Regions from separate parts of the Homo sapiens genome. Here all the other regions are linked to region 6. The links come from fine-mapping of genetic effects on gene expression. A gene starts in region 6. Each other region holds a variant in brackets. All regions are shown on one strand. Distances are between the middles of the regions.

The links. PIP is the estimated chance that this variant, and not a neighbour inherited with it, causes the effect.
Region 1: its variant is the best candidate, but not a certain one, in a credible set for the expression of FAM174B in skeletal muscle (GTEx, PIP 0.86).
Region 2: its variant is the best candidate, but not a certain one, in a credible set for the expression of FAM174B in whole blood (INTERVAL, PIP 0.63).
Region 3: its variant is the best candidate, but not a certain one, in a credible set for the expression of FAM174B in cerebellar hemisphere (GTEx, PIP 0.67).
Region 4: its variant is the best candidate, but not a certain one, in a credible set for the expression of FAM174B in whole blood (TOPMed, PIP 0.88).
Region 5: its variant is the best candidate, but not a certain one, in a credible set for the expression of FAM174B in tibial artery (GTEx, PIP 0.62).

What each region holds. Positions count from the first base shown.
Region 1 is chr15:92,679,645-92,683,733 of GRCh38, forward strand. No RefSeq gene overlaps it. Among named protein-coding and RNA genes, the nearest start is that of FAM174B, 26 kb to the left of the region's middle. RefSeq lists a silencer at 3,795-4,089. The variant T/C (reference allele first, on the strand shown) is at 1,816.
Region 2 is chr15:92,770,747-92,774,835 of GRCh38, forward strand. No RefSeq gene overlaps it. Among named protein-coding and RNA genes, the nearest start is that of CHASERR, 110 kb to the right of the region's middle. The variant A/G (reference allele first, on the strand shown) is at 2,487.
Region 3 is chr15:92,779,213-92,783,301 of GRCh38, forward strand. LOC101926994 (a long non-coding RNA gene) reads right to left here. Exons shown (of 3, transcript XR_001751667.3): 3 at 854-1,014. Among named protein-coding and RNA genes, the nearest start is that of CHASERR, 100 kb to the right of the region's middle. The variant G/A (reference allele first, on the strand shown) is at 1,604.
Region 4 is chr15:92,623,680-92,627,768 of GRCh38, forward strand. All of the region lies in intron 2 of FAM174B (family with sequence similarity 174 member B), which reads right to left. LOC124903559 (a long non-coding RNA gene) reads left to right here. Exons shown (of 3, transcript XR_007064768.1): 1 at 1-84; 2 at 606-739. Among named protein-coding and RNA genes, the nearest start is that of FAM174B, 30 kb to the right of the region's middle. The variant G/A (reference allele first, on the strand shown) is at 2,038.
Region 5 is chr15:92,763,808-92,767,896 of GRCh38, forward strand. No RefSeq gene overlaps it. Among named protein-coding and RNA genes, the nearest start is that of FAM174B, 110 kb to the left of the region's middle. The variant A/G (reference allele first, on the strand shown) is at 2,394.
Region 6 is chr15:92,653,922-92,658,010 of GRCh38, forward strand. FAM174B (family with sequence similarity 174 member B) reads right to left here and starts at 1,854. Exons shown (of 3, transcript NM_207446.3): 1 at 1,395-1,854. The coding sequence starts at 1,738. RefSeq lists silencers at 1,231-1,300, 1,351-1,400, 1,501-1,700, 1,981-2,030.

The DNA.
Region 1 (4,089 bases), 26 kb after region 6:
CTGCAATGAATGACTCCCATGGCGTTAGTGCCTTTTCTTCTCCTCACAGAAGTGAGCAACAAGGACCAATGCTTCCTTCCTTCCTTTGTATACATTAAATGCAGCAAGATGTATGTCAGAGCATACCTTTATTTGTGTACTACTGTGGATATCGTTTAGAGGACAAATAAGATTTTACATTATGGAAGCTTCTTTTTGTTTTTTTGTTTTTTGTTGTTGTTGTTGTTGAGACGGAGTCTTGCTCTGTCACCCAGGCTAGAGTGCAGTGGCTTGATCTCGGCTCACTGCAACCTCTGCCTCCCGGGTTCACGCCATTCTCCTGTCTCAGTCTCCTGAGTAGCTGGGACTACAGGCGCCCACCACCACGCCCGGCTAATTTTTTGTATTTTTAGTAGCGATGGGGCTTCACCGTGTTAGCCACTATGGTCTTGATCTCCTGACCTCGTGATCCACCCACCTTGGCCTCCCAGAGTGCTGGGATTACAGGCGTGAGCCACCGTGCCCGGCCCGGAAGTTTCTTTTTGTATTACTATCAGTACCACTATCTATCAATACTTCTACCTTCTATATCTTTATTCTGTATGAATATAGATAGAAATATAGATAGATCTGGATATAGATATACATAGGTCTATAGATAAACACACACATACAAGATTATATGAGTATGTCTATATAAATACTTATGTATACAAAGATGTTCTTCCAGAGACATTTTCAGTTCTCCAGCCCATCCTATGGATGCAGACATAGACTTACTTCCCACTTATCTGGCTCCGTACCATCCCCAGAATGGAACACAGCGATACAATGTTATGTATAAACATAACCAAATCTTTACCTTTAGGGATAAGACCTGGAAAGTAAGCTGCCAGTACTGACATGTAACAGCCATCCATTTTCTCGATATCCCATTCCCATTGTTATAGGGAGCTGCACCATTTAAAATATGTAGGATATCTAAAGTGGAGGGATGGTAATTATTATTTGAATCCAAAATGAATGATTTATAAGACTAGCGGAAAGGATTTCAGCCCCCTACTCTAAAACATTGTTCATTGAGCGTTTTTGCCAAGGGTAAGCAGAGTAAATTATCAATAGCAGCAGCAGGTACATAGATCACCTCAGCTTTTCACTCTAACTTTATAATGTATGTGTCAACAAACTCATTATAGGCACATTTTAAAATAAGCTTTCATGATCAAGATGGTAGTGATAGAGAATATGGGATAAACTGAGTTTTCTATGTTCTAAACTGTTGGGCAATGATTGAAAAAAAAAGAATGTAAATGTCAGGTTTTTTTATTTAACCCAAATATTTGATGAGGAAAACCTGTTATTTAAACCATGTAAAGTTTTAATCTGTATATATTAGACAAGTGCTTAAAGTACTATAGTAATGCAAGTGCATTAATAAATTCTAAGTTTTATTCAATTCTGAAAAAATACATACAAGCCATCAGGCAATTTTGTTTATCAAATTTCATTAAGAAAAGATAGTATCTCCACTAATTGTTGATACATGCTGGTAGGCTGGTCTTCCCGCCTCCCCCCTCAACATGTGTACTGAAATGCTAATAAATGAATCATCAACAGTAATTACAAATATTCTGGGGATGTGATTTCACAGCTCCCATTTTCAGGAAATTGCATATTTTTGCTCTGTTTGGGTGAAAGCATGTTTATAGTAACAACTTAGTAATAAAAGCCATCTTTGAAAACTATTCTGGTTTTTTTATGTGACTGCAGGGATTTTTCTCACGGCTGACAGCTAAGATTTTAAATAACATTTGTAAAACTTGGACAGATTTTCTG[T/C]TCTGCTTGGAAGTGGGTGATTTCACAATCCCCCTTAGTGACATCATGCTTAACAGAACTGCAATGAAAGCGATCCAGCCCCCTGTGCTCATTCCTCACTGTGGCTGAAAGATGGTTACAGCTGTGGAAATGGAGCTTGATTTCCCTATACCAGCAGCTTTGATTCTCTGCTTTCAGCACTTTTTCCCCTGTGATTATAAGCGGGAGGATAGTTTTGAATATGAACTACTAGAGTGCATGTAAAGTTGAATTGTGGAATTATAGTTTTAGAAATTACTTTCAGCCGGGCACGGTGGCTCAAGCCTGTAATCCCAGCACTTTGGGAGGCCGAGGCGGGCGAATCATGAGGTCAGGAGTTTGAGACCAGCCTGGCCGCCAGAATGGTAAAACCCCGTCTCTACTAAAAATACAAAAAATTAGCCGGGCATGGTGGCACGCGCCTGTAGTCCCAGCTACTTAGGAGGCTAAGGCAGGAGAATTGTTTGAACCCGGCAGGCGGAGGTTGCAGTAAGCCGAGATCGTGCCACTGCACTCCAGCCTGGGTGACAGAGCAAGACTCTGTCTCAAAAAAAAAAAAAAAAAAAAAAAAGGAAAGAAATTACTTTCAATGTCTACTAGCAATGCCCTACCACCACCACTATCTCCACAAAATATGTAACAGATGAAGTACAGGAAGAATTGTCAGGTATTTCAAAGCATGCATTAAGCACCTACTCTATCCCTACCTTAGTGAAAGGAGATTTGGCCTCATTGTGACATGTAATCTTCCCAGTCGTCTTTTGAGATGGCTAATGGCAATTAACACCAAAGTCCCAATAATAGCTATTGAGAAAGTATATTACAGGGGTTAAGGACTTGGTCTTGAGTCATAAACCCTGTCTTTTTTTAAAATTTTTATTTCCACAGGTTATTGGGGAACAGATGGTGTTTGGTTACATGAACAAGTTCTTTAGTGGTAATTTGTGAGATTTTGGTGCACCCATCACCTGAGCAGTGTACACTGAACCCAATTTGTAGTCTTTTATCCCTCACCCCCTTCGCACTCTTTCCCTGAGTCCCCAAAGTCCATTGTGTCATTCTTATGCCTTTGCATCCTCAGAGCTTAGCTCCCACTCATGAGTGAGAACATACGATGTTTGGTTTTCCATTCCCGAGTTACTTCACTTAAAGTAAGAGTCTCCAATCTCATCCAGGAGAAACCCTGTCTTTAAACTCAGTTCTGCCACCTTAGTTGTGTGACTCTACTTTCTTAACCTCTCTGTGTTTGGGTCTCCTTGTCTGTAAAATAGGAGTAATAATAGGCAGTTGTAGGGATTAAACCAGATAACGCAGGCAGCACACTCTATCAGTTACAAATTATTGTCAGCTGCAAAAACACATAAGGTTTTATTTTTCTCAAGTAAAAAAAAATTCCAGAATTGTGCAAGCTGCTGCTGATGGTTCAGCAGCTCCAGGAGTTCACATCACAGACTCCAGGCCTTTTCCTCATGGCCCCAAGAATGGCCACACTGTTGTCCAGCTGTCAGGTCCAAATTCCTGGCAGGAAGTAGGACAAAAGGGCGAGCTTCACAACTCAGTCAGCCCAGCCCTTGAGGGGCCTTCCTAGAAGACCCTCTATCACCTCACTTCCCTCTCTCTCCCCCAAACTCCCACATGGCTTCCGGCTTGTCACTCCACTGACATGGCTCTAAGCTTAGTCATGATTCCACATTGCTAAATTTCACAGACATGTTCCTCCTCTTCCTTGACCTCCCTTTCTCAGCAGAGCAAGAGCCCCTTCTTGAAATACGCCCTTCTTGTGGCCTCCATGACACTGCACTCTTCTGCCTCTCTTCCTGGCTCTTTGCCCCCACATCCATCTCCTTTGCATATTCATTCTCCTCAGCGCCAAGACCGGCTTCTTTGCTCCCACGGCTTCCCTTCTTAGACCATCTCAGCACCTCCACCTTCATTTCCACCTACATGCTGATGATACCAACTTCCCCTCCAGGCCACACCTCTCCTCTGAACTCCAGACCTGGGTATCCCTCCCTTACCCACTCAAGTCTTCATGGCCTTGTTTCCAAGGCTTCTCACACTCAATATATCCAAGAGTGTTTGTGATCCCCCTGCCCGTAAACATACAAACAACAACTCCATCAGACTTCAAAAGCCTGGCCCCGTCCGCTTGTTCCCCCACCAAGGGAATGGCACCATCTGCTGTCCAGTTGAGCAAGCTGAAACCTGGGAATCGTCCCTGACTGCTTCCCCTCGCTCTCCTCCCATGTCCTACAG
Region 2 (4,089 bases), 120 kb after region 6:
GACCACAGATATGTGGGCATCACCAGGGGTCCAAGAAGTTTGCAGAACTTCTTGTTCACAATCAGCTACTTGCCAGATGACATAAACCAGGCCACCTTGTGCCTATAAATCTTTAACATAACATCGTTACTTGTATGCATGCTTCCTTGTCCCCTCAGGGATCTGTTTCAAAAAAGAAATAGTGGCCCAGAGCAACGGCTTGTGCTTGTAGTCCCAGCATTTCAGGAAGCCAAGGCAGGTGGATCACTTGCAGTCAGGAGTTGCAGACCAGCCTGGCCAACACAGCGAAACCCTGTCTCTACTCAAAATACAAAAATTAGCCAGGCATCCGGGAGTGGTGGCGCATGTCTGTAATCCCAGCAACTCAGGAAGCTGAGGCACAAGAATCACTTGAACCCAGGAGGTGAGGGTTGCAGCGAGTCAAGATTTCACCACTGCACTCCAGCCTGGGATAGAGCAAGACTTTGACTCAGAAAAAAAAAAAGAAAGAAAGAAAAAGGAAAAGTTTTTTAAAAAAAAGAAATAGTCATCATATCTAAACTGTAAATTATTTTCTTTTCTTTTTTTTTCTTTTTTTGAGACGAAGTCTCGCTCCCAGGCTGGAGTGCAATGGCGCAATCTCAGCTCACTGCAACCTCCGCCTCCCGGGTTCAAGTGATTCTCCTGCCTCAGCCCCCCAAGTAGCTGGAATTACAGGCGCCTGCCACCACGCCTGGCTAATTTTTGTATTTTTAGTTGAGACGGGGTTTTACCATGTTGGCCAGGCTGGTCTAGAACTCCTGACCTCAGGTGATCCACCCACCTTGGCCTCCCAAAGTGCTGGGATTACAGGCATTAGCCACCACACCCAGCCTAAGCTATAAATTATTTTCATGATTATCTCGGCCTATGTGCAGGAATGAGCAAAGGCAGGTAGCTTGTGGGGTTAGAAGCAAGATGGAGATAGCTACCTTAGATTTCTCTGTTACAATATTATTTACTTGAAGCTCCAATTAATTGGAGTCCTGTTTTGTTTTTGCTTCTGTTTTAGAGACAGGATCTCACTATGTTGCACAGGTTGGCCTTGAACTCCTGGCTTCAAGTGATCCTCCTACTTCACACTCTAGTAGCTGGAATTACAGGCACATGACACCACACCTGGCTTGAAGTCCCGTTTTGTTTTGTTTGTTTTGTTTTGTTTTTTCAAGACAGGGTCCTGCTCTGTCAATCAGGCTGGAATCCAGTGGTACAAACACGGCTCACTGCAGCCTTGACCTTCCAAGTCACTGCAGCCTTGGCCTTCCAGGCTCAAGCAGTCCTTCCAAGTAGCTGTGACTACAGGTATACGCCACCACGCCCAGCTGTTTTTTTCCTTTTTTGCAGACACAAGGTCCCACTATGTTGCCTGGGCTGGTCTTGAACTCTTGGGCTCACCCTCCCACTTCGGCCTCCCAAAGTGCTGGGGCTATAGGTATGAGCCACTACACTTGGCAAAGTCCTGTACTTTTACTTGCTAAGTGGTTCATCCTCACACGGGGGGCAAAAATTGAGGAAAGGATTGCAAGACCTTGACTAGAGGATGCATCATCACATCAAAGAAGTCTATGAGAGGCCGAGGCCGGCAGATCACCTGAGGTCAGGAGATCGAGACCAACCTGGCCAACATGGTCTCTACTAAAATCCGTCTCTTCTAAAAATACAAAAATTAGCTGGGCATGGTGGCAGGCGCCTGTAATCCCAACTACTCAGGAGGCTGAGGCAGGAGAATCGCCTGAGCCCGGGAGGCAGAGGTTGCAGTGAGCCGAGATCACACCACTGCACTCCAGCCTGGGCGACAGAGTGAGACTCCATCTCAAAAAAAAAAGTATATATCCCTGAGTTTCTGAATAATCTCTGCATCTGCTCCCAACAAAGCCTGTCACGTAAAGGGCATCATCAGTCCAGATAGATCTACAAACAGCAGCAAAGACAATAAACTAGGTACGTTTAGTTATCCTTCAAAAGGCAGCTCAAATGTCACATCTTCGATGCTTAGCTAACTCTGCCCCAAGCCAAACAAACAGCTCCTCGCTTTGTGTTCTCCAAAGCTCAGTGTCCACGCTGTGAAGCCCGGGCAATCCAAACAGTGAGCCGTGGTTTATGGACCATCGAGGTGGTCGCTCTGCAGTTCTCTGAGCTCTCTGTGTGCAGAGCTCTCACTCTGTTCATCTTTGCAGCCACGGTGTCCGCCACGATGCCAGACTGCGGCCACAGAGGCTCTACAAATGTGTTGTTCAATGAACGAGGGAATAAAGAGTAACTGCTCCTGTTTTAGAAATGGAATAACCAAGGCCCGGAAGTATTAAATCTGATTCAACTTCCTTTTTTTTTTTTTGAGACGGAGTTTCGCTCTTGTTGCCCAGGCTGGAGTCCCAGTGGCGCCATCTCAGCTCGCCGCAACCTCCGCCTCCCGGGTTCAAGTGATTCTCCTGCCTCAGCCTCCCGAGCAGCTGGGATTACAGGCATGC[A/G]CCACCACGCCCGGCTAATTTTTTGTATTTTTAGTAGAGACGGGGTTTCTCCATGTTGGTCAGGCTGGTCTCGAACTCTTGACCTCAGGTGATCCGCCCGCCTCGGCCTCCCAAAAGTGCTGGGATTACAGATGTGAGCCACCGCACCCGGCCCAACTTTCAATTTATACTTTTTTTATGTTTCTATGGGTCTACCACAAACAAGGAAAATGAATGATGCTTCAGAAGTTGGAATGAGAGACCTCGCTGTACAGTGATTGGAAGAGATACCTGCTATGACAGACATTGAACACCATTCTTTCTGGCCTGGGGCCAACACGGCATCAAAGGTGGCAGGTTTCCCTCCTCCACCCAGCTTCTGCCTTGTATGGCGGTGGAACGAGCCTTGGATGGAAAAATCTCCAACTTCTATTCTAACTCTGTGACTGTGGGCAAGTCATTTTGCCTTGGTTTTCTCCTTTTTCAACTGCCAAGGATGATCTAAACTAAGTAATCCCTAAAGTGCCTTGAACTTGCTTCCCTATTCAACAGCACTCGTTGAGGTCCTTCTGTACAGATCTCTCTGCGGATACAAAACAAGACCTAGTCCCTGACCTTCAGGAACTCACAGACTACTGGAAAGACAGAGAAGCAAAAAGCAAATGCCCTGAAGTGTGGCTGATACTTTGCGCACGCACGCACACACACACACACACACACACACAAAAGCAGTTATCACCATTTACTTTTCATTTACAATCACCATGTGCCAGTCACAGTCCCAATTCCCACTGCCACCTTGTGAAACAGTGTCATTTTAATCCTCATTTAGGGAAGTGAAATGACTTCCTCAAGGTCACTCGGCTAGTAAGTGTCCAGAGCTGCTATTGAAATAAATCTGTCTGACTCAAGAACTAGCCCTCGGCTGGGCGCTATGGCTCATGCCTGTAATCCCAGCACTTTGGGAGGCCGAGGCAGGCCTCCCAAAGGATCACCTGAGGTCAGGAGATTGAGACGAGCCTGACCAACATGGTGAAACCCCGTCTCTACTAAAAATACAAAAAAATCAGCCACGTGTGGTGGAGCGTGCCTGTAATCCCAGCTACTCGGGAGGCTGAGGCAGGAAAATAGCTTGAACCCGGGAGGCAGAGGTTGCAGTGAGCTGAGATCTCGCCATTTCACTTTAGCCTGGGCAACAGAGTGAGACTCCATCTCAAAAAAAAAAAAAAAAAAAAGAACTAGCCCTCTTGCAGCCATAAAAAAAGAATGGAATCATGGTCTTTGCAACAACATGGATGCAGCTGGAGGCCATCATCCTAAGCAAATTAATTCAGGAAGAGAAAACCAAAATGCCACATCTTACTTATAAGTGATAGCTAAATATAGAACACACATGGACATAAAGACAGAAACCACAGACACGGGGGTCTACTAGCGGGTGAAAGGAGGGAGGGTGGCGAGGGCTGAACAACTACCCATTGGACACTATGTTCACTGCCCGGCTGACAGGCCCAAGCACACCCCACAACTAGCATCGTGCAATACGCCTTTGTGACAGAACTTCACGTAACCTCAATTCCAAAATAACAGTTGAAAAAGAAAAAAAAGTAAAAAAGCAAAAATA
Region 3 (4,089 bases), 130 kb after region 6:
CTCCCGACTTCAAGTGATCTGCCTGCCTTGGCCTCCCAAAGTGCTGGGATTACAGGTGTGAGCCACCGCTCCCAGCCTGCAAACATTTTGATACAAAATACTTTTCAGCAATAATATTTTATAGACCTTTTGTGAGAAGAATATTAGTATAGTCCTAAGAAATACAATATTCAAGTCTTTTTTTTTTTTTTTTTGAGATGGAGTTTCACTCCTGTTGCCCATGCTGGAGTGCAATTGTGTGATCTCGGCTCACCACAACCTCCGCATCCTGGGTTCAGGTGATTCTCCTGTCTCAGCCTCCCGAGTAGCTGGGATTACAGACATGCACCACCACGCTTGGCTAATTTTTTATATTTTTAGTAGAGATGGGGTTTCTCCATGTTGGTCGGGCTGGTCTCAAACTCCCAACCTCAGGTGATCTGCCCGCCTCAGCCTCCCAAAGTGCTGGGATTACAGGCATGAGCCACCACGCCTGGCCTCAAGTTATCTTACGCAGGTCAGGTACTGGTTACGCACGTCCGTGTAAAGAGACCACCAAACAGGCTTTGTGTGAGCAATAAAGCCTTTTAATCATCTGGGTGCAGGCCGACTGAGTCCAAAAAAGGAGTCAGCAAAGGGAGATGGGGTGGGCCAGTTTTATAGGATTTGGGTAGGTAGTGGAAAATTACAGTTAAAGGGGGTTTTTCTCTTGTGGGCAGGGGCAGGGGTCACCAGGTGCTTGGTGGGGAGCTCCTGAGACTCAGTCCAGGAGAAGGAATGTCACGAGGTCAGTTGTTCAGTTAGGGTGGAGCAGGAACAAATCACAAGGGTGGAATGTCATCAGTTAAGGCAGGAACTGCCTATTTTGCTTCTTTTGTGGTTCTTCAGTTGCTTCAGGTCATCTGGATGTATACATGCAGGTCACAGGGGTTATGATGGCTTAGCTTGGGCTTAGAGGCCTGACAGTGCCCTTGTTAAAATGAGTTAGAACCTACATAATCCCAGTAGCATTGCCTCTTTAAATGTACAGCATATCTATGATATTCAAAATAAACACAGACATGGGATTGATCTAAATTTTACTTTACAGGTAAAAGAAAATTACAATTCAGCATGAGAACATTCTTCATAAGTTTTACCTATGGCCCCAATGATAATTAGGCCAACTGTATCCTGAGTGTATATGAATGTGTGAATACATACACATACTAATGTATACAAACCAATTCACACAACACGACTCTCCAGAGATGTTGCTTGAAGCACCAGAGAGTAATTTCTTTATTTTTAGTTTTGAAGAGACAGGGTCTCACTAGGTTGCCCAGGCTGGTCTTGAACTCCTGGCCTCAAGTGATCCTTCTGCCTCAGCCTCCCAAAGTGCTGGGTTTACAGGTGGGAGCCACTACACCTGGCCGCCTTTTGTATTTTTTAAAGCTTGAAGCACATATGTGTATTACTTATTAAAAATTTAACAAAGAATTTTAAAAAGAGAAAGAAAGGCCTTTTAGAGGATAGGTCATTTTAGGACTCCCTGGTTCCAAGATATAACTCAATTGTCCTGTAATGAGATAGATACTTCCTGAATCTATTGGGGTTTAAGATTAAAAAAAAAAAAAAAAAAGAC[G/A]TTCTCTTATTCAGACCCATTTATATAGTTCTCATTGCCTTTTCTCATTATGCTCCTGAGGCTCATTTGAAGCTAACACTCAAGCACCAGTGACATCTGGTAACATGGGTAACCCTGGGCAACCAGCTTCTCTCATAGTTGTCATAGCAACAATGATGTTCTGACAGCTGAGTTTTCATCGTGAAGTAATTATCAAGCTTTGGGGAGGGCTCCTCCATGTTTGCAGTTGTTTACGTCAATGAGGTTTATGAATGAACCTCAATTAGATGCAATTTTGATTGAAGTGTTAAGAGAGGCTGTGAATTGAGTCAGATTTACATATCCTTCCACCCAGCCTGGCAAATCTGGTGAATTGTAGGCCTGGTGCAATTCAGAGAGGGGGTGTGACTTGCACTTCAGCCATCAAAAGCCACTGGATATGCGAGGCTTGGTGGCTCATGCTTGTAATCCCAGCACTTTGGGAGGCTGAAGTGATCACCTGAGGTCGGGGGTTCGAGACCAGCCTGGCCAACATGGCGAAACTCCGTCTCTACTAAAAACACAAAAAAAGGCCAGGCACAGTGGCTCACACCTGTAATCCCAGCACTTTGGGAGGCCGAGGTGGGCGGATCACCTAAGCTCAGGAGTTCGAGACCAGCCTGACCAACATGGTGAAACCCTGTCTCTACTAAAAATACAAAAATTAGCAGGCATGGTGGCACACGCCTGTAGTCCTAGCTACAGGGGAGGCTGAGGCAGGAGAATCCCTTGAACCCAGGAGGCAGAGGTTGCAGTGAGCTGAGGTCACGCTACTGCACTCCAGCCTGGGCAACAGAGTGAGACTCCATTTCAAAAAAAAAAAAAAAATTAGCTGGCTGTGGTGGACATGCCTGTAATCCAAGCTACTCGGGAAGTTGAGGAATGAGAATCTCTTGAACCTGGGAGGCGGAGGCTGCAGTGAGCCGAGACTGCACCACTTCACTCCAGCCTGGGCAACAGAGCAATACTCTGTCTCAAAAATAAATAAATAAAAATGTTTTTTTAAAAAGCCACTGGAAGGCTGAAGACCTGGCACGTTCCAACCTGAGATGAACAGTTTCTTCTCTATCCTCTGTTCCCCCACCCAACCACAAGTAGCAGGAACAGACCCAGCAGGTCCTTGATTTCAACCCAGCATATAAAACAAAAGTTCTGATTTGTCAAAACTTTGTAAAACCCATATGTCTATATAATTAGCCCCATTTCACACTGGCGAAACCTCGGGTTTAGACTGCTCAGACTCTTTCCGCTGGACAGCAGTGAAGTCAGGACTCACAGCCACATCTCAGCTTCTTCCACTTCTGCCACCTGCTCAGAGCCAGGAATAAATATTTCTTTGGGTTATCTGGAAAGTGACACTGAGCCTTTCTTACGTCCACAAGCCTTTGTTAAAAGAACAAGTGCTTCTGCATCTATCAGCCAAAGTCAGTAGAAGTGGCTTGGTTCTGGCAGCCAAGAACCCAGCTTGTTGGTGACAAGCTCCTGGTGACACATATGAACTCTTAACCTCTGATTTGAGTGAGGAATTGTAACCAAGTGCCCCTCATTTTTCTAAGAGATAGTTTGTTTCTCTCCCTTCTTTTCTCATTCCCCTGGTTCCCCACTTCCCACTTAGTCCCTTAGAAATGCAAATATAGGCCAGGTGCGGTGGCTCACGCCTGTAATACCAGCACTTTGGGAGGCCGAGGCAGGTGGATCACCTGAGGTCAGGAGTTCGAGACCAGCCTGACAAAAATGGTGAAACCCTGTCTCTACTAAAAATACAAAAAATTAGCCAGGTGTGGTGGCGCATACCTGTAATCCCAGCTACTCAGGAGGCTGAGGAAGGAGAATCACTTGAACTCGGGAGGCGGACAGTGCGGTGAGCCGAGATTGCACCATTGCACTCTAGCCTGGGCATGAAGTGTGAAACTCCCTCTCAAAAAAAAAAAAAAAAATGTCCGGGCGCGGTGGCTCACGCCTGTAATCCCAGCACTTTGGGAGGTCGAGGCGGGCGGATCACGAGGTCAGGAGATTGAGACCATCCTGGCTAACACGGTGAAACCCCATCTCTACTAAAAATACAAAAAATTAGCCGGGCCTGGTGGCGGGCTCCTGTAGTCCCAGCTACTTGGGAGGCTGAGGCAGGAGAATGGCGTGAACCCAGGAGGCAAAGCTTGCAGTGAGCCGAGATCACGCCACTGCACTCCAGCCTGGGCGACAGAGCGAGACTCCTCCGTCTCAAAAAAAAAAAGAAAAAAAAGAAAAGAAAAGAAAGTTAACAGTAGCTTCAAACAATAGCCAAGGAAGTTAGAGTCACAAGGTGTTGGTTCCCTACGTAACAACTTAACATATGTCCCTGAGTTTTTCAGAACTCCCACCAAATGGATCCGCTGGCACGTAGACCTCAGCTAAGGGGCAAACTGAGGACTGCACTTTGACTACCATTCTTTGTCCTGAAGTTCTTCCTGAGAGGCCTGGAGGAAGTC
Region 4 (4,089 bases), 30 kb before region 6:
CCGGCAAGGACACTCTGGGAAGAGGACGCAGTGGCCTTATGAGTGAACGACGGAGAAGCCGGAGGGAGGAGGCCTGGCCTGTCTGTGAGTATGTCTGAGACAGAGAAACGTGTGGACACCACCACCACGTGACAGGGAAGCCCCTGGCAGTTCTACTGCTTCCATCCAGGGACACACAAGAAAAGAACATCTGAAAAACATGGCTTGCTTTTGCAAAAGCATTGATACTTAGGATGATTTGTGTTGTTCATCTTTCCTTCCTTCCTTCCCTCTTTTCTTTTTCTTTCTTTCTCTTTCCTTTTTGTTTATTTGATCAGATTCCTGTTCACGTAGGCTCCATCCTCATAGACATAGACACAAGAATTTTTAAGGTGCCCTGGCTTTGAGTGAGACACCCTAAATGAAAATTGCCCGCAGGCTGCCAATATTGCTTTCCAAAGAAACAAAAATTCTCCATGAGATGCCCATTTTTAACACATATCCTCTGCATTCTGCAAGGAAGAGGACTGGCAGAGGTTTATTCACACTGGTCTGGGGATGGCTTCTGATGCTGTTTCAGATACAGTTACCCTGCAGGTCACCGGCTCCTCTCTGGTTCCTTCCAGGCCTTGGAAGCTAATGATGCCCATTGTTTCTATACCCACCGCCCAGGCAGCTGTCCATCTGCCGATGCTCCTAACAGTTCGCCCTCAGAAGACCACGAGGAAGCCTGGGGTGCCTGGCCATTCAGAGGTCCTCAGTAAGTAGAAGCAGCTCCAAGAAGTCACTGCCTTGAGTGTGCTTAGCAACTGCCATGAGGGCGTCCATGGGGACTCAGAGCTCCCGGGTAGCAAGCCAGGTCTGTTTTCCCATACTCCCTGCCTACCCTGCAGAGGCCTCATGCTGCAAACTGCACAAAAATGCCCTTTGTTTCCAAGACAAGACACCAGCCAAAGCCCGCAGCATTACAGTGGAAATCTCGTGGGTTTCTAATTATACTCCCAAAGGAAGCCCTACCCACAAGAGGGTGGGAAGCAGGGATTTCTAGAATGAACGTCCACACCCCCACGGGGCCACATCCTTTCCACACATAAGAAGCCGGGACAGGGACCTCCCTCTTGGTGGGGAGGCAGGGCTGGCAGGAGCAGCGCGTTCTCCCAGCAGTGTGCCTTTGGGCTGCGCCTGTCACAGCTGCCGGGCCGCCTGCCACACACACGGGAGGAAAAGCCCACATCTGTCTCTTCCTGGAGGACGCCTAGAGGGTGTAACAAAGTCTTCTGTAATAAACCGGGAATGCAAAGAGGCCCAGAGCATCCACACAACTGCACACTAGGCAACAAAGCTCAAAACACATGCAGCCGAAACCCAAACGCCTCTTGAAAGAACCATTTCAAAACCCCAGGGCACTCTTGTACTCTGGTTAGCTATCATTTCTTCTTTCTAATTAGTCTTTTTAAGTACAGAGTTAGAGATTCATTTCTATAGAACTCCCTCCCTCCCTCCCCAAACTCTGGCCCTACGCACTCAAGGTCTTATCTCCTACCCTGCCTGTATTCTTCCTCCTTCATTTCCTACCTGGCTGAAAACTTCGAGAAAAAAAAGCCTGTCTGATAGGCACAGGCTCTAAGTCACAAGATGTTACCAGAGAGTTACCTGGGAAATAAGAAGCAGGTTACTCTGCCTTACTGCCCTGGTGCCAAAAACATGATTTTCCTCTTTCCACCCAATCACAAAATAACCCAAAGCCATGATTCATCTGATTTAAATGTAGTCTGTTTCCTAGAGAGAACTGAAACATTTGGTTGAGTTATGTCTAAATGGGAAAAACAAGTACCTGTGAACAGATTAGCCATGTGCAGACAAAGAAGTTCACAAAAACACTAAACCAAACATGCAACGTCTGAAACTCTTTGTTCTTTCACACCTATTGGCCTGAAAAGTTGCTCATGATTCATTGTTTGGGTAGAAAAACGTGCCAAAACAGCATGTATAATACAGTCTTATTTCTATAAAAAACAAAGTTTCACATCTATATACTCACACACTCTAGTGGTTACT[G/A]TTAAGTAGTGAGATGACAAGTAACTGTGTCTTTCCTGTTTATTATCTGTATTTTCTACAGCTTAACATTACCTCTGTAATAAGAAAAGCCAGCACTACTTAGTCTTTCCGAACAGTCAGTCATCTTTAGGCCTGAGGACTGCAGTGGGCTTGTGTCTAATGACTCACTTCCAAGTTCACTCACATTCTGATTTTATTTCAACCACAAACAGCACAAACTTCTCAAGGAAGGGAAGCAGAAAAGGCAAAAGCAAAGCAAAAGAAGAGATAAAACGTTTAAGGACTTGGGAGCAGGGACAGGGACTCTTCTTAGTCCCAGATGACGTATCTACACAGAAAACCCAAAGATTCCACATTTATCCTACAAGAATTAATAAAAGTTTAGCAAGGTTGCTGGATTTTTTTTTTTTTTTTTTTTTGAGACCAGGCCGGAGTGCACTGGCGCGATCTTGGCTCACTGCAATCTCTGCCTCCTGGGTTCGCGCCATTCTCCTGCCTCAGCCTCCCAAGTAGCTGGGACTACAGGCGCCAGCCACCGTGCCCGGCTAATTTTTTGTATTTTCAGTAGAGACAGGGTTTCACCGTGTTAGCCAGGATGGTCTCGATCTCCTGACCTCGTGATCCGCCCGCCTCGGCCTCCCAAAGTGCTGGATTATAGGCGCGTGCCACCGCACCCAGCCAGTTGCTGGATTTTTTTTAAAAAAATCAGTATCTTTTAAAAATAACTGCAATAAACAAAAAGTTTAAAAATAATATTTTTTAAGAGACATCAAAGTCATGAATCATGAGATGGCGGCTTGCAGAGAAATCTGTTTTTGACACTGTCCCCAGAATGACAGCAGAGAGAAGCTGGCAGCCCTAGAAGCAGAAACCCAGGCATGGAGACTGGTCAGTGGGACAAAGGGGTTCTTTACGGCCGATGGTCTGGAGCGGGAAACTTATACAGAGGGATTTGCAGGGTCCTGAGTTTCTGCCTAGAATAGGGGCAGAGGAGACACTACTAAGGTGCTTCAGGGAGCTAACACTATTCCTGTATTAAAAACCACCAAGTGCTGGCCGGGCGCCATGGCTCACACCTGTAATCCCAGCACTTTGGGAGGCCGAGGCGGGTGGATCACGAGGTCAAGAGATCGAGACCATCCTGGCCAACATGGTGAAACCCCGTCACCACTAAAAATACAAAAAATGAGCTGGGCATGGTGGCACATGCCTGTAGTCCCAGCTACTCAGGAGGCTGAGGCAGGAGAATCGCTTGAACCCGAGAGGCAGAGGTTGCAGTGAGCCAAGATAGTGCCACTGCACTCTGGCCCGGGCGGCAGAGCGAGACTCCATCTCAAAAAAAACAAAAAAACAAAAAAAAAACCACCAAGTGTTGAAGGGCCCCGCACTATCGCTGTGTCAGATAGAGATGGAATGCACATCATTAAAGTGGCCAACGAAAATGACCCAGAGCGTGCCCGGAGACCAGGTGTCTCACTAACTTTTGCCCTCGCAACACGCCAGCCAGCAAGCCAACCTGGACTTTCAAAACACAAGCTTGGACTTATCTGTTAACTTTAACACCTACCAGGTGGTTTACCTTTAGTAGTTTGTTTGTTTCACAGCCAGCAGCAATGCCAATATGGCAGTCATTGTCAGCCTAGAAAAGGAACTCGCTCCATTATTTGAAGAACTGAGACAAGCTGTGGAAGTTTCTTAATGTGACACTCGTTTCAACGTGTGCCTTATCTTCATCATACCAGACACAATGTCAATCCAGCAACCAGGCCACAATAATATGGACGTCTATGCCCTCAGGGAAAGGCCCCTTTTCCCACCTTCTAGGAAACAGCCTATAAAGAGAATTTCTGAGCAGATTGATTGTCATATTTCCTTGTTTAGGGTCTTCTCTTATTCAGTGGGATGTGGAGACACCACAAAAATAGTTCTGTCTATCATGCTTCCCACGGAGTTAGTTCAGTCACCAAAGATTGATGAGACGCTGTTCACTGGCTCAGAATCAAAACAGTACATTGATCCACTCGAACCATTAAACGCTCCCTATTGTACAAT
Region 5 (4,089 bases), 110 kb after region 6:
CCTGAGACTCTCCCTCCAGCCACTGGGCAGCTTTTTAACCACCCTAGAGCCCTCTCCATGCCTTGGACCAAATAGAAATAAAGCTTTTTGCAACAGCAAAAAAACAGGGAGGTGAGGGAGAAGAAAAGAAAAAACAAAAAAGTAATAGCAACGCCTCATGTTTACTCTGTTGGATAATCCAGAGTTAATACTTTTTGTTGATGAGTCCTACGCCAAAAATTTGGAAGGAAAATAATAGGTAAGATGTGCCATTCCCACCCAAAATGAGTTACTAGAGAAGGGAGCTCTTCCTCAATTTAAGGCAGCTCAACCTAAGGAGATTTTGCTCTCATCCAAGCTTGTTATATAGCTAATGACAAGTTGGTAAATATTTATGCGGATAATGTATATCTTTCTTGAGTAGTATGTGATTTTTTGCATGTTAAAGAAACAATAAAGATTTCTCACTTCTAGTGGGAGCCCCATCAAAAATGGACTCCAATTAGATGAATTTTTTTCTGCTTTCCTGTTACTGTCACAGATTGCCATTATTAAGATTGAAGCCCATACTGTAAAACTAAACTGAATATCAAGGAACTGCCGTAGCAGATTTTAATGCTAAATCAGCTAGTGCTGAAACTGTTGGCATATACAATTTGGATGAACTCCATAAGATTAATACGAGTCAACTACTCCCTTTTGATGACCTATTTAATAAACAGTTTAATGCACCTAATTTGGAAAAACAAAATTGATATCTAAAAGTATATACAAAAATTAGCTGGGCATGGTGGCACCTGCCTGTAATCCCAGCTACTCCGGAGCCTGAGGCAGGAGGATCACTTGAACCCGGGAGACAGAGGTTGCAGTGAGCTGAGATCACATCACTGCACTGTAGCCTGGGCAATACAGCGAGACTCCTTCTCAAAAATAAATAAGTAAAAGTATATAAATTAAATGTGAAGCACAGTCTCACAGAGGGCCTGGATGGCCACCTAGTCCTACATGAGTCTTTAAAGCTTCCATTGTTAAAAGCTCTGCACTTCATAACTCATCATGGAACAGAAAAAATGTTCCAGGCCAGGCACCGTGGCTCATGCCTGTAATCCCAGCACTTTGGGAGGCCGAGAAGGGTAGATGGCCTGAGGTCAGGAGTTCAAGACCAGCCTGGCGAACGTGGTGAAACCCCATCTCTACTAAAAATACAAAAATTAGCCAGGCACAATGGCACATGCCTGTAGTCCCAGCTACTCAGAAGGCTGAGGCAGGAGAACCACTTGAACCTGGGAGGCAGAGGCTGCAGTGAGCCAAGATGGCGCCACTGCACTCCAGCCTGGGTGACAGAGAGAGAATCTGTCTCCAAAAAAGAAAAAATGTTCCAAATTATTAAAAAGTATGGGTGGGGCAACTATTCTAAAATTGCTAAAACACTGGTTTATAACCAATGTTTGGTTTATCAAACTCATAGTCCTGGGAAAACAATCAAAACTTCAGGGGGTATATTTCCACCACCTAATGCACCATTTGGAGATTTACAGATAGACTTCATTCAGTTGGCACCCTCAATGGGGTATCAGTATGTTCCTGTCATAGCTGTATGTTTTCAGGTTGGGTAGAGGCTTTTCCATGTAGGAAAGTCAAGTTGTGACAGTAGCTAAAAAATTATTAGAAAATCTGTTTTCTCTACAGGGCATCCCTGGAGAAGTCTGTAGCAATAGGAGACTTCATTTTACTGGGCAAGTTATAAAGCAGTTAAATAAGGTGTTACAGACACACTCCCATTGTTCCTATCACTCTCAGCCTCCTGGAAAGGTTGAAAGAACAAATGGCATCTTAAAACTTAAATTGGCAAAGTTAACTGAGTCAAATCGATTACCTTGCCCAAAGATACTATCATTAGCTTTAATGGCAATCAGATCCATTCCCACTGGAAAACATAAGTGGACCCCTGATAAAGTAGTCACTAGAAGGCCCATAGCCCTAATAATAGAACTTTCTGCATCTCCTGCTCTCCTTAACTCTCATGTGACTAAATACTGCAAGGTTTTAATGCATTATGCCAAAGTGTATTTTCAACAGGTAAAGACATTCTTACTGACCCATCAACTGAGGACAATCAAACCTTTCAAAGTCTCAAATCTAGAGATTGGGTCATCTGGAAATGACATCAGAGGAAGACCCCCTGATCTTGTTGGAAGGAACTGTACAAATTTCTTCTCACCACCCACAATGCAGTGAAGCTTCAGGGCCTTGAATGTTATGTCACAGCTCAAAAGGGCCTGCTCAGATTCTTGGAACTGTACACTGGTTGGCAAGTTTAAGGTAAAGGTAACAAGAGAAATTTCTCCCCAGAAGCAGATGGCATACTAGACTTGGAAAGTTTTCCCAAAATTAGGCAGCAAAACTTCTCTGCC[A/G]TCATGAAAGACTTATGCCTTTTTCTTTTTTCCTCATTTCCTCCTGTCCTAATATTTTCCTTTTTCCTACAGGAAAATCTGTAGGACCATAATCAAGCTTTAGCTCAAGCTAATGCCCTAGCACAAAACCAGAGCAATTGTTGGGTTTATGGGCTAATGGCAAAAAAATCAGAAAACAATTCAATTAACACTAATGCCTCTCTGTGTTCTCAATGAGAGCCACCTTAAAATGTTAAAGGAAGAGCAGAAAGCTATCCTTGATATTCTAAACATCATGGCTAATGGATTTCCTGCACTCGCTACAAACAACACTCTAACTTTTCCAATTAATAAGCTAATAATTACTAAATATAGAAAACCCGCCTGAGGCCAGGCGCGGTGGCTCACACCTGTAATCCCAGCACTTTGGGAGGCCGAGGCGGGCGGATCATAAGGTCAGGAGATCGAGACCATCCTGGCTAACACGGTGAAACCCCGTCTCTACTAAAAATACAAAAAATGAGCTGGGCATGGCAGCAGGCTCCTGTAGTCCCAGCTGCTGGGGAGGCTGAGGCAGGAGAATGGCGTGAACCTGGGAGGCGGAGCTTGCAGTGAGCCGAGATCACACCACTGCACTCCAGCCTGGGTGACAGAGAGAGACTCCGTCTCAAAAAAAAAAAAAAAGAAAACCCGCCTGAGTGATGCCTGCAAAAGGTATATTGTGCTTCCAGGCATCACACACTCAAGATCTGGGAACTTGTACTTATGTGTGTACAATTAATTGTACTTACGTGTGTACAAGTAATTGCTTGTATAATGTTACTGGATTAAATCCAGTGGGATCCTTTTTTACTAAATGTGTTAATACAGTAAGTCCTCACTTAACATTGTTGATAGGTTCTTGGAAACTGCAACTTTAAGCAAAATGCAATGTACAGCAGATACTCAAATAATGTCATTTTGTTCAGCCTCATTTCATTATAATGTTGATGAGAAAAAAATTGGTTTTCTTAGAGTCATTTTGCTTAAAGTTGCAGTTTCCAAGAACCTACCAATGATGTTAAATGAGGATTTACTGTACACCCTTACAGAATGTTATAAAGGGGTCACAAAAAAAGTGGATTTCCCACTGCACCTTGTTCAGAAGCTACGCAGATTTGTGGGTGAAGAAATTTAAGTGATGCTGCTCAAACACAACCAGGTGGCCCTCTTTGAAAACTCCTGAGGGCCTATATTGGGTCTGTGGAGCATCTCCTTATTTCATTCTGCCTTTTTTTTCTTTTTTTTTTTTTTTTTAATTTATTTTTTTTTATTGATCATTCTTGGGTGTTTCTCGCAGAGGGGGATTTGGCAGGGACATAGGACAATAGTGGAGGGAAGGTCAGCAGATAAACAAGTGAACAAAGGTCTCTGGTTTTCCTAGGCAGAGGACCCTGCGGCCTTCCACAGTGTTTGTGTCCCTGGGTACTTGAGATTAGGGAGTGGTGATGACTCTTAACGAGCATGCTGCCTTCAAGCATCTGTTTAACAAAGCACATCTTGCACCGCCCTTAATCCATTTAACCCTGAGTGGACACAGCACATGTTTCAGAGACCACAGGGTTGGGGGGTAAGGTCACAGATCAACAGGATCCCAAGGCAGAAGAATTTTTCTTAGTACAGAACAAAATGAAAAGTCTCCCATGTCTACCTCTTTCTACACAGACACGGCAACCAT
Region 6 (4,089 bases):
GCCACAGAGAGCTGCTAGAGTTTGTAAACAGAGGATTGAGGCCAGTGGGTAGAGTGGGAAGAAGACAGGAGCATTTCAACCCAGAGAACATCAAGGAGACCAGCAGAGTGAGGAACGATGTGGCCTGAGACAAGGCAGGGAATGGTGAGGTGAGCGTGGGACCATACTTCCCCTTTCTCCATTTTCTCAGACCACTGGCATCTAATCCTACAGACACAGAAGAAAACACCTGGACTCAAAGTCACACACAACTGACAGCAAAGCTCAATACATAGATGGCTCCTAACTCTGCCTTTTCCTGGTCTGGTTTCTGCTGTTGCACTGAAAATGCTACCAGGAGAGCAAGCCCTGAAGCCCAACCTGCCACAGCTGATCAAACACCAAAGCACTGTGTGTACGCTTGGAAGCAGAGGGAGGCAGCAGTGAACAGCTGACACACACACCCAGACTTCCAGGCGGGCCTCAGTAACAGGACAGGTTTGGTTCATTTCCTGCAAAAACAGGATTTCCCAGGCATTAAAGGAAATGTCCTTGCATTCCTCTTAGCCCTGTCCACCAGGATGGACAGGGATCAAGGACCTGGGACATCCTTCCTAATTTACCAGACACTTTATCCCTGAACGTGAGCAACCTACAAAAGGCTCTCCAAGATCCCTCATGCCCCTGTGAATGTTCATCTAGCGCAACTTAGGCAGGAGCCTAGGAAAGCCGTCTGTGTCCCCCACCAACAGAAAATAAGGGAGGCCACCAAGGGTCGCCTAGAATCCTGAAGCTCAGCTCCAACCCCTGGTGCAAAGCACCCCTCCAGCGTAATTCTGGAGGCAATTCTACTACCCCCCACACTAGAAACTGCTTCTTTCAGTAGCAAAAAAAAAAAAAAGAAGAAGAAGAAGAAGAAGAAAAAGTAGGCGGGGCGTGAGGGAGCTGCAGATGGTAGAAGGGAGAGGGAGTAGCGAGATTAAAGTTAGACAGGCCTGGGTTCAAGTCCTACCTCCACCACTGAGTTTACCTTAGATGAGCCATTTTGCCTCTCTGAAAATGTTTTCCTCATCTGTGAAATGATTATAAAAATAAATTATGGGAAACGCTGTCAGAATTCAGAGCGCTATTGTTAGTGTTCAGCATTAGCAGAAAGCCAACAAATGGGAACCACATATTTATTTTATATATATAGTTAAAGAGAGGAAAGAAAATTCCTAAAACATGTACCAGGAAAATCCAGACGAGCACACCCCGGCCCCCCACCCACTCTCCCGGGCAGGGCAGGAGGCACACGGCTGGCTGGGGCGCACCAGGGCACCTGTGCGTGCAGGTGGGGCGGGCGCGCGGCGACAGCAGGTTGGCGATGCCGCCCTGTCGGCCGGCGGGGGAAGGAAGAGGGCGGGAGGGCCCACCTGAAGACGCGCAGCAGCAGGCAGGCGATGAGGAGGGTGGTAAAGGCGAACGCCACGATCACGGCTGCCTTGAGGGTGGGTAGGTCGCGGAGGAGGATGGAAATGCGGGTCACCAAGGCGTCGCCACTGCTGTTGGAGCTGGAGCTGCCGCTGCCGCCCGCCGCCCCAGACCCAAACCGGGTGGTGTTCCCGGGCCCCGGGCCGGGCGGTGGCCGCGACTCGCGCTCGGGTTCGGGCCACGGCGCGGAGACGGACTCGGCTCTGCTGGCGCGGGCGGCGGGAGCGGCCAGGAGCGCGAGCAGCAGCAGCGGCAGGAGCGGGGCGGGCAGCGGCACGGCGCGCATAGTGCGGTGGGTCGGCACAGGATCGGGCAGGGCGCGCGCGGCTGAGCTCCAGGATCCGCACCAGCACGGAGGCCTGCACCGGGGGATCCTGCGGCGGAGGCGGCTGCGCGGTGCTTGGCAGGAAGCTGCGGCGCCCGGAAGAGCCCGCGCCACCGCCGCCGCCACCACCAACACGTTGCAAGGAGTCATTCGACGGGCCGCGGCCCCACGTGGGCGGGGCAGGCCACCCGGCCTGGGTCCCGGCTGCGCTCCGCTCGCCCGCGACCCCAATTCCTCGGGACTTGAGACCCCGTGGTGAAGCAGCAACTGCCACGATGACACTTGGGCTGGCCCTGTGTTACACGTTTCACGTGTTTTATTTATTTCATTTAATTCTACAACCCCCTTTGAAGACAGGTATTCTGTTACCCACATTTGATAGCTGACTTGGCACCCAAAGAGCCAGCTCACAGCAACCCACATTGTGTCAGACTAAGAATCAAAAACTATGGGACCTAGAAGTAGACTCCCATCTTGCAGATCAAAAACTGAAGCCGACAGTGAAGTGGTTGCCTGATGTCCTATGCAACGCATAATTTCAGTATCTCCCCTAATTTCCCTCTTTCTCAAAAGGGGTTTCTTATTTCATGCGCCTCTGCTTACGAACCGGACTGGGATGTGAATCTCTGCCTCTCATACCTTTGTTGTGGAACACCAGTTGGTGTGGTTAATGCCCCCCTGCCTGGCTGAAGTTTCTCCGGGGAATAATTGGCTTGCTGCCTCTGGTTTGTAAGCTAAATGATGCTTAGGTGGAGAAAGACAATTAAGGAAGTTCTAGTGGGAGGCCCAAAGGTGGAAACTGATGGGGACACAGAGCCCCTACCTGAAGTACTAGGAGCCATTCCCAGGGCTTCAGGGTTCCCCTTTTACACTGCAGATGGGTCCTGGCAGGAAGCTTTTCGGTGGTGGGTAAACAGTTAAATACACATGACATGACAAGGTCCCAGGGACCTTAAACAGCCCATTTCTGGTCCTGCTGGAAAAAGAGACAAATATAGTACAGTGTATTAGTTGTCTACTGCAGCATAACAAATTGCCCTAAAACCTAGCTGCTTAAAACAACATGCATTTAGTATCTCACAGTCTGTGGGTCAGGAAACTGACCATAGGTTACCTGGGTTCTCTGCTTCAGAGCCTCTCCCAAAGGTGCAATCAAGGTGTCAGCTGGGGCTGGGGTCTCCTCTGAAGGCTCAACTGGGGAAGGATCTGCTTCCAAGCTCAATCAGCATTTTTTGGCCAGATTCAGCCCTGCACTGGCTGTTGGACTGGAGCCTCAGTTTCCTTGGGGCAGTTGGCCAGAGGTTGCCCTCAGTTCCTTGGCATGGGGCCCTTCCAACATAGCAACTTGCTTCATCAAAGTATGCAAGTCAAGATAGCAATAGAAAGAGTCACCTACCAAGACAGAAGTCACTGTCTTATGAAACCTCATCACAGAAGTGACATTCTCACACCTTTGTCATATTCTATCAGTTAGAAGCAAGTCACAGGTTTTATCCACACTCAAGGAGAAGGAATTACACAACAGTATGAATATCAGGAAGCAGGGATCATTGGGGCCATCCTAGAAGCTGCCTGCCACCTACAGTGTAATTCATTTTGATCTGGGGGGATGGACAACAATCAGATTATCAGAAGTCATCATCCAGAAGGTACTTCTGAAATGCATGTTAAATATGCATTCCATGTTAAATATGCCCCAGTGATAAGAGATATGGATAGATCACATGATTTAGGTCTCTTCTAACTCTGAAATATCACCTTCTGGTATGTTAAAAATGTTGCATTAGTAGAGAGTCAACATCATCATATCAGTATGATAGAATATATAAAAGTAAGTTTTTAAAGAAACACCTCTGATTCCATGATTTTGGAGAACTGTTCTCCAAGGCATAAACCTCAGCTATCACAGCCTCTTATTTTTGTACTTATCAGAAATTCCTGCACGATACAGCAAAGAGGTCCTGGGCTTTGAGCCTCTTAGCCAGGATGAAAGGTTTGACCACTGAATGGCCTTGGCCAAGTATTTAACCACTGAATACCAGGTTTTTAATATCTGAAATAGGCTGGGCGTGGTGGCTACGCCTGTAATCCCAGCACTTTGGGAGGCCAAGGTAAGTGGATCACCTGAGGTCAGGAGTTCGAGACCATGGTGAAACCCCGTCTCTACTAAAAATAAAAATTAGCTGGGTGTGGTGGTGCATATCTGTATTCCCAGCTATTCGGGAGGCTGAGGCAGGAGAATCGCTTGAACCCGGGAGGCAGAGGTTGCGGTGAGCCAAGATCGCGCCATTGCACTCCAATCTGGGCAACAA